Regions from separate parts of the Homo sapiens genome. Here region 2 is linked to region 1. Evidence: fine-mapped QTL for protein levels in blood plasma. A gene starts in region 1. The other region holds a variant in brackets. All regions are shown on one strand. Distances are from middle to middle.

Region 1 (8,343 bases):
AATAGACAAACCTGTGCACAAATATGTCCCAACTTTTAAAGTATATCCATATAATGAACACTGAGAAAAATACATGGAAATTTAACAATTATTGATTCTGAGTAACTGTATCCTATTGTGTGTTTTCTAAATTTTCTATAATTAGCATTATTACTTTTATAATCAGAAAATTTTAACATAAAAAAGGAATAGAACTATAGTTATATCTCACTTTTCAGAATTCAACTGAGCAGTAGCCTCACTGATCTGCAAGACAATCCAGTTTCAAAAATTAAGCAAAAAAGATTCTGAGCAGCCAAAATACATCTTACAAAGCCCACACTTAAAGGTGTGGGTACTTTGTTCATCAAGAAAGCTCTTTGTAACTTCTTTTACATATATCTCAATTCCAACTAACGTGGTTATCTGATGTACCAGAAGCACTGGGAATGTAGACACACAGACAAGGGTGCAAAGTGATAGGCCTTGGCCTAACAGCAAGAAAAAAATAATGAAAATAAAAATATAAAGCAGACACAGACACTTACAAAGCAGTTCAGGGGCAACTATGGCCAAACATCCTAAACAATATATTACCATAAAGTATGGTAATAGATATTCACTATAACAACTTTGAGTTAAAGAGTGCTCTAAAGAGGTTCATTTGAAGATAGCCGTAGACTGGTTGGCTAAAGAAGAAAAATTCCTAATGCATTTTAGGAAAAACCTGATCACAAATATTTATAAGAAGAAGAAAAGAGTGCTTAAAGAGAATCTCCTCAGCTATCCAGAGCAACTCATTTCTGCAAGTTCCCCACAGTTGGAATTTTACTATACTGAAACGGATTTTATGATTGACTGCATTGACTAATACAGATCTGGAGAACAATCTGGAAGGAAATGATTAATGACTGCTTCTTTACAAGGAAGTTTAAAAATAAATAACTATAGGCATATCAGAATCAGCATTAACACAGCAATTGCTACTACATGCAGCCAGGTTGTTAATGTTATTTTGGCTTAAATCCATATTCTGGGCAGGATTTAGTACCATGTAGGCAGTTGGGACCTATCAGCTACCAGGGTAATGTCAGTAGGCCCCATTCCATCACACAGGACAAACTACGAACCAAAGAAATATCTATTCCACCTCCTTCATACTTGTCTCTTTTGCTTCTGACTTCAAAAGCAGGGCTAGAAAGACCAGGAAGAAGAGACTGATTATGTTTATATCTGTGGAGCAAAGATTATGCAAACTGCCAGCACTTCATTGTTTTTGTTTTCGGTGTGGTTATCACAGAACAAAAACAAAAAGATAACTTCTACATCTGAAGCCCCATTATTTGAAAACAGACCTGAATATTTCCTCCTCTTTCAATAAAGCAGAAAGCACCCTCCATTTTACTTATCTATGAGGTATTTATTTGTTGATAGGGGACTAGTTACTATTTCTATATGAGAGCTTGACAGAGTCTATCTAAAGAAGCTATTTCCTGAGTTACTCTAGAAACCTCACACTGTTTTGATATTTGCCAAAAATCCAAGATAGCGTGTTTTTTTTTTTTAATTTCTCCACCTTCCATACCCCTCAGGGCTAAAAAGAGAAAAACATGATCACAAGCATAGTAAATGGTCCGTTAGCACTCTGACCTCTCTGAGTTTCTATTTGTCTTTTGTTCCTTTTTCTTTTAAATACCCTTACTGTTTATTTTTTCCTGTTTACAGAAGTAATGCATGGTCATTGTCACAATTCAAACAACACAAAGATGTATGAAATAAAAATTAATAACCTCCCCTCCTCCAAACTCTCAGTCTTCTCTCAAGGAAGCCAATGTTAACAGTCTGGTATATATTCTTTTTTACTTATTCCTAGGCTTACACAAATATTTATAACATATGTGGCTTTTCTTGTTTTGTCTTTTGGTTTTCAAGCAAAAATGGGATATTACATGTACTATCATGCATTTTGCCTTTTAGTCTTAAAAATATGCCATGGACACTTTCCAAGCCTATATATAGATCCACAGAATACTCTTTTAGTGGCTGTGAAGTATTCCATGAGACAAATGTCCCATAATTCATTCAACCATCACCCTGAGTCTCCCAACTTATTAACATTTAGCATAGATCTTCGTGCATATACTACTTCATGACCTTTCACTTCAGTGACAGATTTTTAGAAGTGAGGTTTCTAGGTCGAGTGAAACATTTCCAAGTGTCTCAAATTTTATATTTAAACAAAATTAATTTTAGGCCTTGGGAATTTCTGTTCTCTTCATTATGCAAAATTTTGTTATCTACCTTTCACAATGCTTTACATATTTTATTCTTAAAAGCACACACATTATGTCAAAAAATGCCCCTGTCATTTATGCTTGTGTAGTTATAAATAAATAAATGCTTAAGTTATGGCTGTGATGTCCAGTGTTAAATCACTGTGCAAATGCTTATGCCTTGGTTTATGAAAGTAGTAATTCATTGTGGAAACCCCACCCCCACAGCCATGTGGCAGCACTAGAGTTGCAGCCCTCACATCCTGTGACTCCCTCCCACAGAGTGACTATATAGAGATCAGGACCTCCATTTTTTCTAATTGTCAACAGTTAACCTTAAAAAGTGTGTGGTGGGGGAGACAAATAGCAACAAACAACAAATTGATGGCCATTTTGGGTTTCTAATATGGACAGATTATTTGTAACACAATGAATAATCCTCCTGGTCTACACCAGCGACTGTGTTCCAAAAGAAATAAAACTTGTAACCAATATATTGCTATTATTATTACAGGAACCTTTAAAAAACATATCTTCAAACATTTTTCAATAGAATTACTGGATGAATCACACTTTACATTTTTTTCTCTACTTCAGATTCAAGTTCTAATTGCAAACTTAAAAAAAAAAGCCTTAAAGAAATACATTAACCAACGAAGCTCCTTATAATTTGGTTTCAGACTCCTCCATATATTTTAAAGACCTGAGCACCAACAGAGATTGTTAAGATACAGCAAGCTTGATACAGAAGTATGCGACATGCAATTAATCTCCATTCATACCCCGCTCTACTTGTCAGCAAACAAAGGTTCTGCTTTAGAAGGAGATCTGAAGACTTCAATTAAAAACAGTCAGCTAACAAGAAAATAATCTAAGCTAAAGGAAGGTGGCAGGTGCAGAAATGAGTTGTTTACCAAAGTGTCAGTTTTGAACAATGAAGAACTGCACATCAAAAATGCTGAAGGAATGGATTTCATTGCAAGCCTCTGAAAATAAAAAGGAATTTTCTACCAAGCCTAGACACAAAACTGAAGTATAGTTTAATAAGCTTATAAAATAGGTTTCCTCTCATCAAATGACAGATACCAATAAAAAGAATCAGTTTATATATTTCAATGCAAGGGCAGAGTTAAACTTTTTGCCACAGTCCCTTCTTTCCTAGAAACCAAAGACAATTACAGCCTTCCTTCACAAGCCTAATATTAAACCAACAACAGAGGGAAAGGCTGGATTGTTTCTTCTTAGACACCCAGATAATTCTCTTTTACCCTGCAAATAGTTTTCTACCCCCAAAATTTAGATTTATTCTGATCGTAAGTAAAACGGATTTTGGAAACCTCACCTCAAAAGAAATATCTAGCTGACAGCTTTTACATAGAAGCAATCCAGAATGGAAATAGTGCTACAGACAGAGACCAAAAGGACTTGCCAAATATTTGATTAGGAGGCATTTATACCGAGATAACAAGGTAATGGAGATATAAAACCAATTAAATTGAGAGAAACTGAAAAAAAATACTGCTTGCCAAAAATATGACCTGCCCAAAGCAGGCCGTCTGTTAAATATGTGTCAACTATGTCAACTTAGATGCCAAAAGGCTTAATTCTGAATAGTTTCCTCCTGGGAGCCTTATGCGACTGCAGATTCCAGGCCTCTGTCCTCCCTGGAAGGTTAGTTACAGGAAAGCAAGTAAAAGTGACTTCCACCACGAAACCCAGCAGATGAAACTGCCCGTTAGCAACGTCTCTTTGTGACATCTCTTTGGAGTGTTGGCAGTGTGTGTTGAGTGTTGACGGGGATGGCCGGAACTCTTTAAACCACCGCTTAGACACTGTAGTTGGAAGGTGAACACACCACAATGGGAGTTGGAAGGTGAACACACCACAATGGGGGCACTTCTAGAAAAGGAGGAAATCCCATACTGAGAATGAGCCTGCCTTGGGGTGGGTGAGACCCCTAGACGTCTGCAGGGTGATAAAGGGAGGGCTGGGGTTTTCGCACTGACAAAAACTCACGTCAACCACCTGGCCTTGGCCCATGGGGATCCCATGAGCCCCTCGCAGCCCCCTGGAGAGCCTCGGGGACCTCTAAGCAGGAAGGTTTGGGGTCTTCTGTGAGAGGTGAGGAAGTCGTGGCTGGGGAAGGAGGGGGACGGGAAACCCTACAGATGTAGGGCAGTCCTTTGGAGAAAGGGACAGGTCGGAGACCAGGCAAGGTGGCATGGGGGACCAAGAACCTGGCCTGAGGACTTTAGAAGCCGGGGAGGTGAAGTGGAGGCGTGGAGGTGCCTCAAGGCAAAAGAAGATGTGGGACTCCAGGGAGTGAAAGGGGCCCTGAGGTGAGAGGATGGAAAGCTGGCTCTAGGGAGTTGAGGGCTCTAGAAGCCTTAAGGTTCTAGAAGGAGGTGAGTGACGAAGCCGTAAAGAAAGCCTGGCCGTGGGAGGCCTGGTGTCCCCTTTCGGCCTTCGGCTCAGCACTGGAGGGGGCCTGCGCCAGGGCGTTACCTTCCAGGAGCCAACGGATCTCCTCAGGGAGGGCGGCGGCCTGCATTTGGCTGGGCGGGAGAGAGGCGGGACGGGGCGCGGGCCCTGGTCGGGAGGCGGACGGGCTGGAAGGCGACCCGGCTGCACCGCGAGGCACCTGTACCTCAGCCGCGGTCGCCGCCCGCCCAGCCCGGCCGCGGGGCGGGGCCGTGGGTCCCCGGGCGCGTCAGGAAGTGGCGCGGGCGGCAGGCGGGGACCGGAACGGGGCGCGGGGCGTGGGTGCACGTGGCGCTCACGCCGGAGCCCCACGGTAGAAGGATTGGGGGTGCCGGAAGCACCGCACCGTGCGAGGCCAAAGGTGCGCCCCTCCAGCACCCACCAAAACAAAAGACTTCACAAGGCTCAAAGGACCCACGGCTTTGGACACTCCATCCTAAGCACCGAACAGTTGACCTCACGGTGGCAGATTTGAAAGACCACGGGGTGCCTGAAGTAGGGTGCAGGGAGGCAGAATCCAAGGAAGAGATCCCCGTCAAGCATAGCACCCCTCAATTGCCGGTCCAGTTCACATCTCCATCCCCAGAAAAGAGGGCAAAACTTCGCTCTTTGGGAAGCCACAATGTTGAAAGGAAATGATTAATTCCCAATAAGCAATATAAGGACACCAACATTTGGGAGAATCGCGGCAGCGTGGCAGCAAGGGACACAGGAAACCAAACTGTGCTGTTCTCCCTCAGGATGGAAAGGCCCTGAGGAAAGGAAGGGGTAACACAGGGAGAAAGCTGAGGGAGAGGAGAACAGAGCCCTTTCCCTCCAGGAGCTGCGGAAGGGAGGAAAGTGAAGGACAAAATCACACGGTCTCATTCAAGGGACAGTTGGTGTCAGTGTCCTGGTTGTGACATGGTACTGTAATAGTGCCAGATGTTACCCTTGGGGGAAACTGGGTAAAGGTAGACAGAGTTCCTCTATTATTTCTGAAACTCTCTGTGAATCTATAATTCTCAAAATAAAGAGGTTTTTTAAGTACAATAGGTCAACTGCCATGAAAAAAGTATAAAGTGCTATGGTTGATAAAAGAAGGGAGCTGAATACCAGAAAAGGAGGGAAGAGGCCAGGCATTGTGGCTCACACCTGTAATCACAGCACTTTGGGAGGCTGAAGCAGGAGGATCACTTGAGCCCAGGAATCTGAGGTTACAGCCAACTATGATCACCCCAGTGTACCCCAGCCTGGGCAACAGAGCAAGACCCTGTCTCTTAAAAAAGAAAGAAAATAAAAAGAAGTGCCAGTGTGCATGTGAGTGTTTAAAGGTGCATGTGGTGTTTGAGATGGGCTCTGAAAAACACACCAGACTTTGAAGGGGCAGAGGACTTTCCAGGTGGAAGGACCAGAGTAAAGAAAGATGGAAGAGCCCTCACCAGCTTGAGGAATAGTTAGTAGCCCTCTTTTACTGGATGTTGTAGAAAGACTATGGTTGTCAAGATAAACTGCAGCTCTACTGTGAAGGGACTTGAAAGTCAGAATAGGAATGTTGAACTTAATTGAGAGGGCACTGGGGAGCCATTGACAATTTTTGAGATTGGGAATGACCTAACCAGAGCTCCGGGGTGGTATGTGGCCTCACACATCTCCACCTCTGCCTTTTTCCTTCTTTGTAAAAAATGGCATTTCTATTCTCAGACTCAACCTACAGAATATGTAGAAAAGATTAGGAGTGGTGGGAAAAGACACAGGGGGAAGTGGGTAAAATGGTTTTTACAACAGCCATAAGGGGAATAATGATGGACTCAATCTAGCAGACGGGGCAAGAGCAGTAAGAAGAAACCATCGAGAAGGATGAGTGTGATAAAAGTGCCTGCCTCCTTGTACTGTTTCCCATCCAGAGATACAGCCTCAAAGATGAGGGTGTGATCCTTTAAGGAGTACAGTGCATCCTGCCATCTGAAAAGCAGTGGTGCATTGGTTTCAGTGTCACATGACCCACCTACAAGCTGCAGTAAATTGGGGTGAGGGGACAGAGGCTGGCATGAGCCTCTCTGGGGTATCTGGCTCCTGCTCATCCTCCTTCCTGCCCTGAGAAAGTATAGTAATGGGTGGCTGGGCACAGTGGCTCACGCCTATAATCCCAGCACTTTGGGAGGCCAAGGCAGGCGGATCACGAGGTCAGGAGTTTGAGGTCAGCCTGACCAATATAGTGAAACCCCGTCTCTACTAATAATACAAAAATTAGCTGGGCATGGTGGTGCACGCCTGTAATCCCAGCTACTCGGGTGGCTGAGGCAGGAGAATCACATGAACCCGGGGGGCGGAGGTTGCAGTGAGCCGAGATCAGGCCATTGCACTCTAGCCTGGGTGACAGGGCAAGACTCCATCTCAAAAAAAAGAAAGAAAGAAAGAAAGAAAGTATAGCAATGGGCAGACTACCCCTTTCAGGCTTGGGATCAAGTACCAGGTACCCCCATGGCATTTTTACCAACTTCACCACTTCACCTATAAAATTGTAGCTGCTCTAGAATCATTTTGAAGTACTTATGAGGCATACTAAAAAGCAAGGAAAGATACATGGGAACTGTCTGTGCTATCATCTCAATTTTTTTTTGGTAAATCTAAACTGTTACACAAAAAATACAGCAAGGGCAGCAAAGTCTCCCCATATGTCAACCTAAACTTTGCCTTGCTTTCCTTCTTGGCAACAGAAGAAAATTTGATAACCTCCCCCTCTTCTTCAAGGATATGGTGTCACATACTAATATAAGCTACCAGCTAATGAATTGTTTGATAAAGAGCAGTAAACCCAGGTAATTGCACTTCTTTGCAGGCTTCACTGCCTGTCATAGCTTACTTACACCAAAAACTCACAGTGTACGTATTCTATATGCATCCTTCCTTACAAGAATCTCTGGGTTTTAGAGAGACAGGGGTAGAGGGAGGTGCACAGTCGGGTAGTATGTAGTGAGTGACTGGCAGATTCCAATACGGTATTGTCATGTTGCATCAAGGTTCCTCATTGCAGACAGAAATCTGCCTCCACACATGAACGCAGCCCTTCCTTAATCATCTGAGGACCCTGTTTCAGCAGTCAGCCCCACTCCTAATGACATTCTGTTAAATGGACAAATTCCTTTGAAGCCTTGTCCTTTTTTGAAATCCAATTTCGCAGGAAGCCAAATCTGATTGGGGGTAGCCATGGAAACCACATGGAGGAGTCTTAGAGGAGGTGAAGAGAGGCAAGGCAAAACGTGATAGTCACGAGTCCTTTACTGTTCTGTCAGAAATATCAAAGCAATCTGGAGAGGTTGGCAGTAGCTGAGTCCCTGCCTGGGTCCTGTTCTGTGTGGCTGGGTACTATGTGGCTGTCATGGAAGAAAGCAGCCAGCTGTCTCTGCACACAGGCAGGAGGACAGAACAGAATACACAAATCTCAGGTCTGTCTGCCTCCCTTTTCTTCCCGTCCCCCCCAGACCCAATTCCAGCAAGATCTTAGCATCCTCTTCTTAGCTGCCTGCCCCTTAAAGACAAACAACAAAAGAATGACAAGGTTAAAATACAAGGCCCTCACAGATAAGAGGTCCTTTGGAGCAGAGGCCATGAAATTAATCTGGAATTC
Region 2 (8,343 bases), 160 kb before region 1:
TTTCTACCCTTTCTATTCCTTGCCCCCTTATGGCATTACAGGTTCCTTTTGTTTTATGGTGGGGGAAAAAACCATACACACAATGAAAGAATATTGAAAAAGTTCTGTAAAAGCTCCCCTGAGAGAGAAAAATCTCTGGAAGTCATTCTTCCTCTTGGAAAGGCGTTGGATCAATTTCATTCTTCTCCAGATAACACATAAAACTCAGCACAGGCTATGTAAGTAAAAGAAAGTTTCAGTGAGGGTTTGTTTCTTGCTGCCAAGGGTCTGCAACTTCGAATTGCCTGAAATACTGAACATATTGAGACATGAATGCTGCAAACATCTAAAAATATTAGTAGTGTGGCTGCCTACAAAGAAGATGGAGGGCCTACCTGAGGCGGCAGAGCCTCTTACATTGGAGGGTTGGAGAGAATCATCCACCTGCAGGAGGCCCCCAGTCAGGAGGTTAGAAGACCATATTTAAGAAGAAGGAATCACAGTCCAAGTTCGGCCTCAAACCAGTACATTTTAAGAGTCTCAGTAGATAGCAAAGAGATCATAAAAATGACTCACCAAAAGGCATATATTAAAATTGGACTGGGATGCATTTTTAAGAAAGCCAGAAAACTCCAAGAGCATAGCTTCAGAATAAGAACAACACATGGTTTTTTGGGGGGGAAGTTTAATAAACTGCAGTTTTGGATTACCTTAATCCATATCCTTAATCCACAAAATTCTGTCATTCACTGTTTTGGGCAATGTGACATTATATTTTATTGTAAAGTATTATAGTATATTTCTGTTTGATGAGTAAAAACTTGAACAATTAAAATAAACAATGTATATTGTAATCTCATTGCATGAAGATTTGATTTTCCTATTCTGTTGTAAATTTTAAATTTCTTATCCTGTTAAAAAGCCCATAAAACAGATTTTGTGAACATATGTTTTATGAGCCAATGCCAAAGTAAGAGTGGTAAATCCCTCAGTCACAGACATAATCTTCAGAAGTCAACACTTAATTATTCAGCTTGTAGATTTTCCATGCTTTCCTGTCCCTCCTCCTTGGTATTTCATTGCACACACACACTTCTTTTAGAAAGCAGGCAAACAAAAGAAGTAGAAGAGATGAAACTCAGACTTGAAGGTGTGGATATCTGTAACATTACTTTGAAATGTTGTCAGCAAGGAAAAAGAAGCTAAAAGATAATAAAAATTGTTATCATTTAAGAATAGCTTTCATTTCAAAACAGTATTTCATGTGCATTTTTTTTCAAATGTCTGTTTAAAAGTTTTTGCAAATTAATTGTGGTTAGGATGTTTCAAACTAACACAGTAAATAGATTTTCACCTCAAAATTGTACCTACTTAAAAACATTTAAATTTTACTTAATACTGACTTTTAGGTTGATTCTTCAGTAAACAAAGTGAGAGCTTGTCATTAACTACCAGCAGGTGGTGGTATTCACAAATAGGGTACAAGAAATACTGAAAGGGCTATGAGTATAACCAATATGTGGTTCAGATTTATGGATTATGGATTTTAAAACATTTTTAATGGAGTTGTCAGCACACTGAAACTACTTCCATTCCCATCTGTTCCATATGAATGTGGAAACTTGGAAGTCACCTTAAAATATGTGCCTGTAGAAAGTTTTGCATTAAGAACATTGGGTCTCTTTATAAAAGCAGACAAATATTTTCTATTTTTAAATATTTAAATTTTCTGTATAACAATGAGCTTCAAACATGCACAAGTATCCTGACTCTTCCAATATTTTGGGGGCCTCTAGGTTTAGAATCTGATCTATCTTCTATTCAGGGCAGACACGTATCAAGAGGGAGCACTGACTGTATACTTTAGCCAAGCTAACCTGAGCAAATGCTGAATGGTGGGCACTGTGCACACAGTTGCTATGGAGAAAATATGTCCGTTCTTGTCTCCAAAAAAAAGGTCCCAGGTTTCAGAGGATACAGAAGCAACAAGAGGCGGTGAACTCCAGTCATCGAGTCAACAGCTTCAGGGGCTTTAGGAACAGGCTGAAATTATTTGGTTTTGACCGCCAGATGACCTCCATTGCTGCCCAGTCTGATGGACAGTCGGACCATTAGTTCTTTTAACACACATTCTTTTCCTGAAACACAGACACCACTCTGCGTTTGCACAGAGCAAGAAAGGAGAGCAAACGAGAGTGTCTGAAAGGGAGAGACAGAGACGTACATTTGCAGAGAAACTTCTAAACCAGCCGCAACCCTTCTACTGTTTTAGGGCCTAGGACTAGAGGAATTCAATCCAAGCAAAGAGACATCAGCTTTTTTTTTTTTATCTAACTTAAAAATCTGACTTTAGACTACAATTAGGCAAGATTATATCTAATAAATGTCCAAAACAAAAACATGGAAATGGTTAAAATTGATTTTTTGTATTTTCTAAAGCATTTGATATCTAGCTTAAAAATCAGCAACACTACTTTATATATATATACAAAATGTATACATATATATGTTTATACATATATATATACACACACACAGAGATCAGAAATAAAGAGGTCTTACTATGTTCTACCTAATGTTAGTTCAGGCTTACTGCAAAATTGTTTTCCACTACATACTACCCAGTTCTTTGAAATCCATTTAATGAGTTTAATTCCCAGGCCACATTACTGTGGTATATGAGATTCAATGTACATTTTATTTGTTTTCTTGGTATGCATGTGTTTTGATGTGTGAATGAAAAGTAACTTTGGTCTTATTATTCTTATAAAACAAATCAGGAGCTAAGCTTTGCTTTCAGACAACCTATTAATCCAAGGCAAAACTGAAAAGCACAAAGATTGTACTCCAAAGAGACCCATAAAGATACTGAACTTTGCCAGGAAATGGGGAGGGAAAAGGGAGTAGAAAAGGAAATTTAGGTAGAGGATAAAATTTTCTATAGATGATGAATCATTCTATCTTTAAATAAAGCAATACTTAAACTTACATTTAATCAAATCTACAAAACACACACACACACACACACACACACACACACACACACCCTCCATCTCCATTTTCTTGTGGTTGTGGCTGACAGAACTGTACTTGTCCCCAGCCTCTTCTGATTTTCCTCTTGGGATAAGTGATGAGCTATGCTGCAGTCAACGAGGAAACATCTGTTTGACTTTCCGAAGCTGGCATGGGGAGCTGAAGTCTGAATCACAAATGCCACTTTCATAAACAGGTCTCCCACAGGAACCTTGCTAAAAACATGACTCTACTGGGGTGAGCCACAGCTCTGGTGAGTGATGGGGAAGGCTGCTCTCCTTTCCAGCTATTTGAAACAATATACACTTTTTATAGGATTTGTCTGTGGTGGGATTTAATGAATTCCAATCTGTTAACAGACGTACCTGAATCCAGTTTTAATTTGGGAAGTTAGTTCATACTGAAGCTCCAAAGGCTCTAAATCTGGGAATTTTTAATTAGTAAGAAAGCTATGGCTGGGTGCGGTGGCTCACACCTGTAATCCCAGCACTTTGGGAGGCTGAGGGAGGCGGATCACGAGGTCAGGAGTTCAAGACCAGCCTGGCCAACATGGTGAAACCCCATTTCTACTCAAAATACAAAAAATTAGCCCGGCATGGTAGCAGATGCCTGTAATCCCAGCTACTTGGGAGGCTGAGGCAGGAGAATCACTTGAACCTGGGAGGCGGAGGTTGCAGTGAGCTGAGACCGCACCACTGCACTCCAGCCTGGGCCTGTCTCAAAAAAAAAA[AAAGCAAGC/A]AAGCAAGCAAGCAAGCAAGCAAGCTATGACACTGTGGTGTGTGGTTACTGTGTTCAGAAAAGACACACAAAACCTCAAATTATTTTTTAAGCATATTGACGTGGTACTTAAAAATCAGCACACAGTTTTCACATTTTATTTTATTCTAGTATTGTTGTCATCAACAATGTGAATAACTCAGAACACCACTCTGGCTAGAGGTGTGTCTAACACACCCGAACTGTAACCTTTCTCTTTCCCTCCCCCCATGAAACTAGGGAGAAAACACCTTTGGGAGCTGTATCTGCCCAAAGGCAAACTCCTGTGGCAGGTGGAACAGGGAGCTGGCCATGCTCCAAATGCCTCCCCTGTTAGAATCTTCACATCTGCATGTCTGTTTAGGTTGTCCAAGTTTTCAACTTAACTTATTTTTAAAACCTCTTTTCTTTAGTTTAGTGATTTTTCTCTTTATGAAAAATGACTGCTTGCTGTTTGATTCCTCTCTTGGGATATTTACTCATTCTCTCCTGAACAGGGCTCTCATTTCCTTGTCAGCACTTGGTTTGGCTGACATCACTGTATGATTATTAACCTGTGAGTGAGCTGGAAATATTTCCGAGATAATCTAAACACACACCCACACCTACACACACCCACACACACACATACACACACACACTAGCCTAGTCTATTCAACTGAAGTATTTGGCAAAAATAATAGATTTTATAAGCTATATCAAATAGATCTTAATGTAAATTGTTAGGCTGGTGCAAACATCATCCTGCATATTTCTAGTTCAAAGGTAGAGAGCATTTGTGTCAGAAAGGAGCTCCTTTATTATTTAAAGACAGTTTCCACCTATCAGAACAGATGGATAGTTGTTGCCTGTAAAATACGAATTATACTATACATAACAATAAATACACTATTGAAACCGTTAGTTCAAGAAATCAAGGCTGTGGCTGGAAAGCAATTTAATTTTAGAAATTCTGTTTTCCTTTTCTTTTTTTCTTTTCTTACTTTCTTTTTTTTTTTTTTTGAGACAGAGTCTCACTCTGTCACCCAGGCTGGAGTGCAGTGGCGCAATCTTGACTCACTGTAAGCTCCGCCTCCCAGGTTCACGCCATTCTCCTGCCTCAGCCTCCCGAGTAGCTGGGACTACAGGCGCCTGCCACAACGCCCGGCTAATTTTTTGTATTTTTAGTAGAGACAGGGTTTCACTGTGTTGGCCAGGATGGTCTCGATCTCTTGACCTCGTGATCCACCAGCCTCGGCCTCCCAAAGTGCTGGGATTACAGGCATGAGCCACCGTGCCCGGCCCTGTTTTCCTTTTCTTATTCCTCTTTTTCTCTTTTTTGAAATTTAAAAATGATATTTCTATTTTACAATTACTAGAGAGAATTATTGGGTGAATGAAGTGGAAATGTCCAAATATACACGAATTTTCTTTCTTTCTGTGACTAGACTAACACTCAACACGAAATGCTTTCACTGCTTGAAGGAAAGCCCTCATAGAACATAGCAGATGGCAGAATTAGCACATAGAATATCATTTTATCATGAAAAAAATGTGATGCCAAGCCAATAATTATTTTCCTCAAATTTGTTTTCCACATCTTTCCCTATACTCAGGGCTCTGAATGTTCCTACAGCATTTAGGATCTTCTGATAAATTTCCAACTTTTGAATTATGAACACTAGTAAGCCTTTTTTAGCTTTAAGTGAAATTAAGACATGAAGTAGATATATAAGTTATTAGGCCTTAGAGAAAAAAAGACAAAATTAGATACTTCTCAACATACATGATTTAACTTAAACAATACCTCAATTTTACTTTGTTCTCACAATCAAAAAATAATGTTGAACAAAAGGAACAGTAGTTGGAGAATTCTTCCAAAATCAATTTTAATTAAACACACACACACACTTTAATGTTGAATATGCCTGTTTAATCAATGATTTTGGCTCTAAGGTGATACAATCAGCATTTATACTTCAAATTACCACTTGGTACTAATAGATACTCTATACACAAGTCCTTAAGGTCAACACCCAAATTATTGCCCTATATTAATCATTAATAACTTAGAAAATGATAATTTTCTAAACCCATTTTTTTAAAAGAGCAAACACACTTGCTTAGTTTAATTTGCTACTATTAAAATGATTTGTGATTAATTTAATATCAATTAATTTAATACTAGATTGCTTACAAAATTATTTACTATATTTCTGTTCTTTTCACCACTTGCTCTTAAGTATTGAGCCATGGGAGATGTTTAGGAACTCCGTTAGGAAGGGTAATTACAGAACCAAAGCAGGGGAGGACCTGACAAAATAGATACCAACAGATAAATGGAGGGAAGGGAGAGATGGAAAGGCACACCATTTCTCATGTGATTATACAGAGGTTGCTTATAGGTACCTTTACATTATTATCTTGTGTTTGTATTATGCCCATTTTACAGATGAGAAAAGCTAAAATCAGAGAACTTAAATGACTTCTCTGAGATCATAAAGGTAGTTAATGTAATAATCCAGTGTAAGGTTTGGAATGCTTTACAAAATGAATCTCATCAAATCCTCGAAAGACAGACATTACTCTTTAGAGTTTCAAAAAAAAGAAAGAAAACTTGAAGAGGCCTCATGCAATATAATAAGCCAATTATAAAAATGAGAAGAAGATGCAAAGGATATCAGTCCTGGGCAACCAAACAATCAGTAGCTAACCCTCCAAATACTGACCTGAAATAATAACATGACAAAAGACTACTTAAAAAAAAAACAAAAAACCCACACCTGTGTTACATATTGTGCTTACTAGTCAAAAGTCCTAAATGACAATTTTCTAAAACTTGAGTACAGGCAATCCTGACTTACAAACCCTTGAGTTACCACCTATAATGTGTATTCATTGCTGTCATATCTGACACAGAGCTGCTGCGGAAAATACTTGGAAGACTGAAAAGGATGAGTTGGTACGAAGTGGAGAGATTCAAGTTAATTTTTTTTTGTTTTTTTTGAGACAGTCTCACTCTGTTGCACAGGCTGGAGTGCAGTGGCGTGATCTCTGTTCACTGCAACCTCCGCCTCCTGGGTTCAAGTGATTCGCCTACCTCAGCCTCCAGAGTAGTTGGGATTACAGGCAGGTGCCACCATACCCAGCTAATTTTTGTATTTTTAGTAGAGACGGGGTCTCACCATGTTGGCCAGGCTGGTCTTGAACTCCTGATCTCAAATGATCTACCCGCCTCAGCCTCCCAAAGTGCTGGAATCGCAGGTGTGAGCCACTGTGCCCGGCCTCAAGTTAATTTTTAACCGTAATGCTATACAAACTAAAACCACAGTAAGATTTTTAAGTTACTTGATAAAACAATTCTGAAATTTACAGGAAAAATAAAGGGGTGAAAATAGCATTTTGAAATTTTGAAAGAGAAAAGTCATGACTGACACTAACGATACTTAAAACATTCTAGAGCTACATAAGTCCTAGTACTGGTACAAAAATAGATCAATAGAATAGGATAAAGAGCTCATTTTAGATGTAATATACTAATATATAATAAATAATGCACCACAAGTAGAAGAGGGTGATTGAATAAATGATTTTGAAGAGAATAGTAATTTGGAACAAGATCAATTTAGATTCTTGTCTCACACTAATCAAAATAAATTCCACCTGAATTAAAGGTAAATATACGGAAGTCAAATTATAGAAAAACCAGAAAAGAACTGAATGTTGAACAAAACTCTAGAGAAGAAAGGACATTTTAAGTTAGAAGTGATAAAAGTAAATAAATAAATTTGACCACTTTGAGAAAAAAAAACAAAAAATAACTTCTGTGTGTAACAACTATCTGTCTACACCAGGACTAGAGATCTATACTAGTCCACTAGATACACTAGAGACTGTTATCTGTCTACACCAGGACTAGAGAATGTGGCATAAGTGGGAAGAGCTTCAGGAAGCTGACCCTGAGGGACCTGTATTTCCAGGCAGAGTTAACCTGCTATAAGGTCATATTCTTGTACAAAATTATGTAACCCACATCGCCCAAATTATTGTGCTCCATCATTATTCCACCTTAAATGCCTTCATTTAGAGATTCATTCATATTTTGAGAACACAAATATGTTCTGAAGGATAGTTAGTGGAGATAACAATCACTCACAAATTGGCACAAAATTAATTAGCTTAGCTTCCTCCTACATCTAGCTGTGATAAGCTGCACTAAGTTAAAGAGAGCTTTTATCTAGTGGGGATGGAAAGTAAGTGATTTGTGAGTTTAATAAAGAATTTATTTTTTATTATTAAAAAATGAGGCCGGGTGCGGTGGCTCACGCTTGTAATCCCAGCACTTTGGGAGGCTGAGGCGGGAGGATCACCTGAGGTCGGGAGTATCACCTGAGGTCGGGAGTTCGCGACCTGCCCGACCAACATGGAGAAACCCTGTCTCTACTAAAAATACAAGATTAGCCAGGCATGGTGGCGCATGCCTGTAATCCCAGCTACTCAGGAGGCTGAGGCAGGAGTATCGCTTGAACCAGGAGGCGGAGGTTGCAGTGAGCCAAGATGGCACCACTGCACTCCAGCCTGGGCAACAAGAGCGAA

Which allele goes with the higher level. Alleles are on the strand shown, and positions count from the first base shown. The strength of an association depends on the size of the effect and on how common the allele is.
In carriers of allele A in region 2, the plasma level of the protein whose gene starts at base 4,897 in region 1 tends to be higher than with AAAGCAAGC alone (weak association).

What was found. A credible set is the group of variants that fine-mapping cannot tell apart. PIP is the posterior inclusion probability: the model's chance that the variant is causal. The UK Biobank Pharma Proteomics Project read protein levels with antibody pairs (Olink). The fine-mapping took linkage between variants from a reference panel, not from the people measured, so its PIPs are less certain.
Region 2: its variant is the best candidate, but not a certain one, in a credible set for the plasma level of the SKAP1 protein (UK Biobank, PIP 0.68).

What each region holds. Positions count from the first base shown.
Region 1 is chr17:48,425,318-48,433,660 of GRCh38, forward strand. SKAP1 (src kinase associated phosphoprotein 1) reads right to left here and starts at 4,897. Exons shown (of 13, transcript NM_003726.4): 1 at 4,758-4,897. The coding sequence starts at 4,803. RefSeq lists a silencer at 4,811-5,070.
Region 2 is chr17:48,261,759-48,270,101 of GRCh38, forward strand. All of the region lies in intron 4 of SKAP1 (src kinase associated phosphoprotein 1), which reads right to left. Among named protein-coding and RNA genes, the nearest start is that of SKAP1-AS2, 28 kb to the right of the region's middle. The variant AAAGCAAGC/A (reference allele first, on the strand shown) is at 3,743.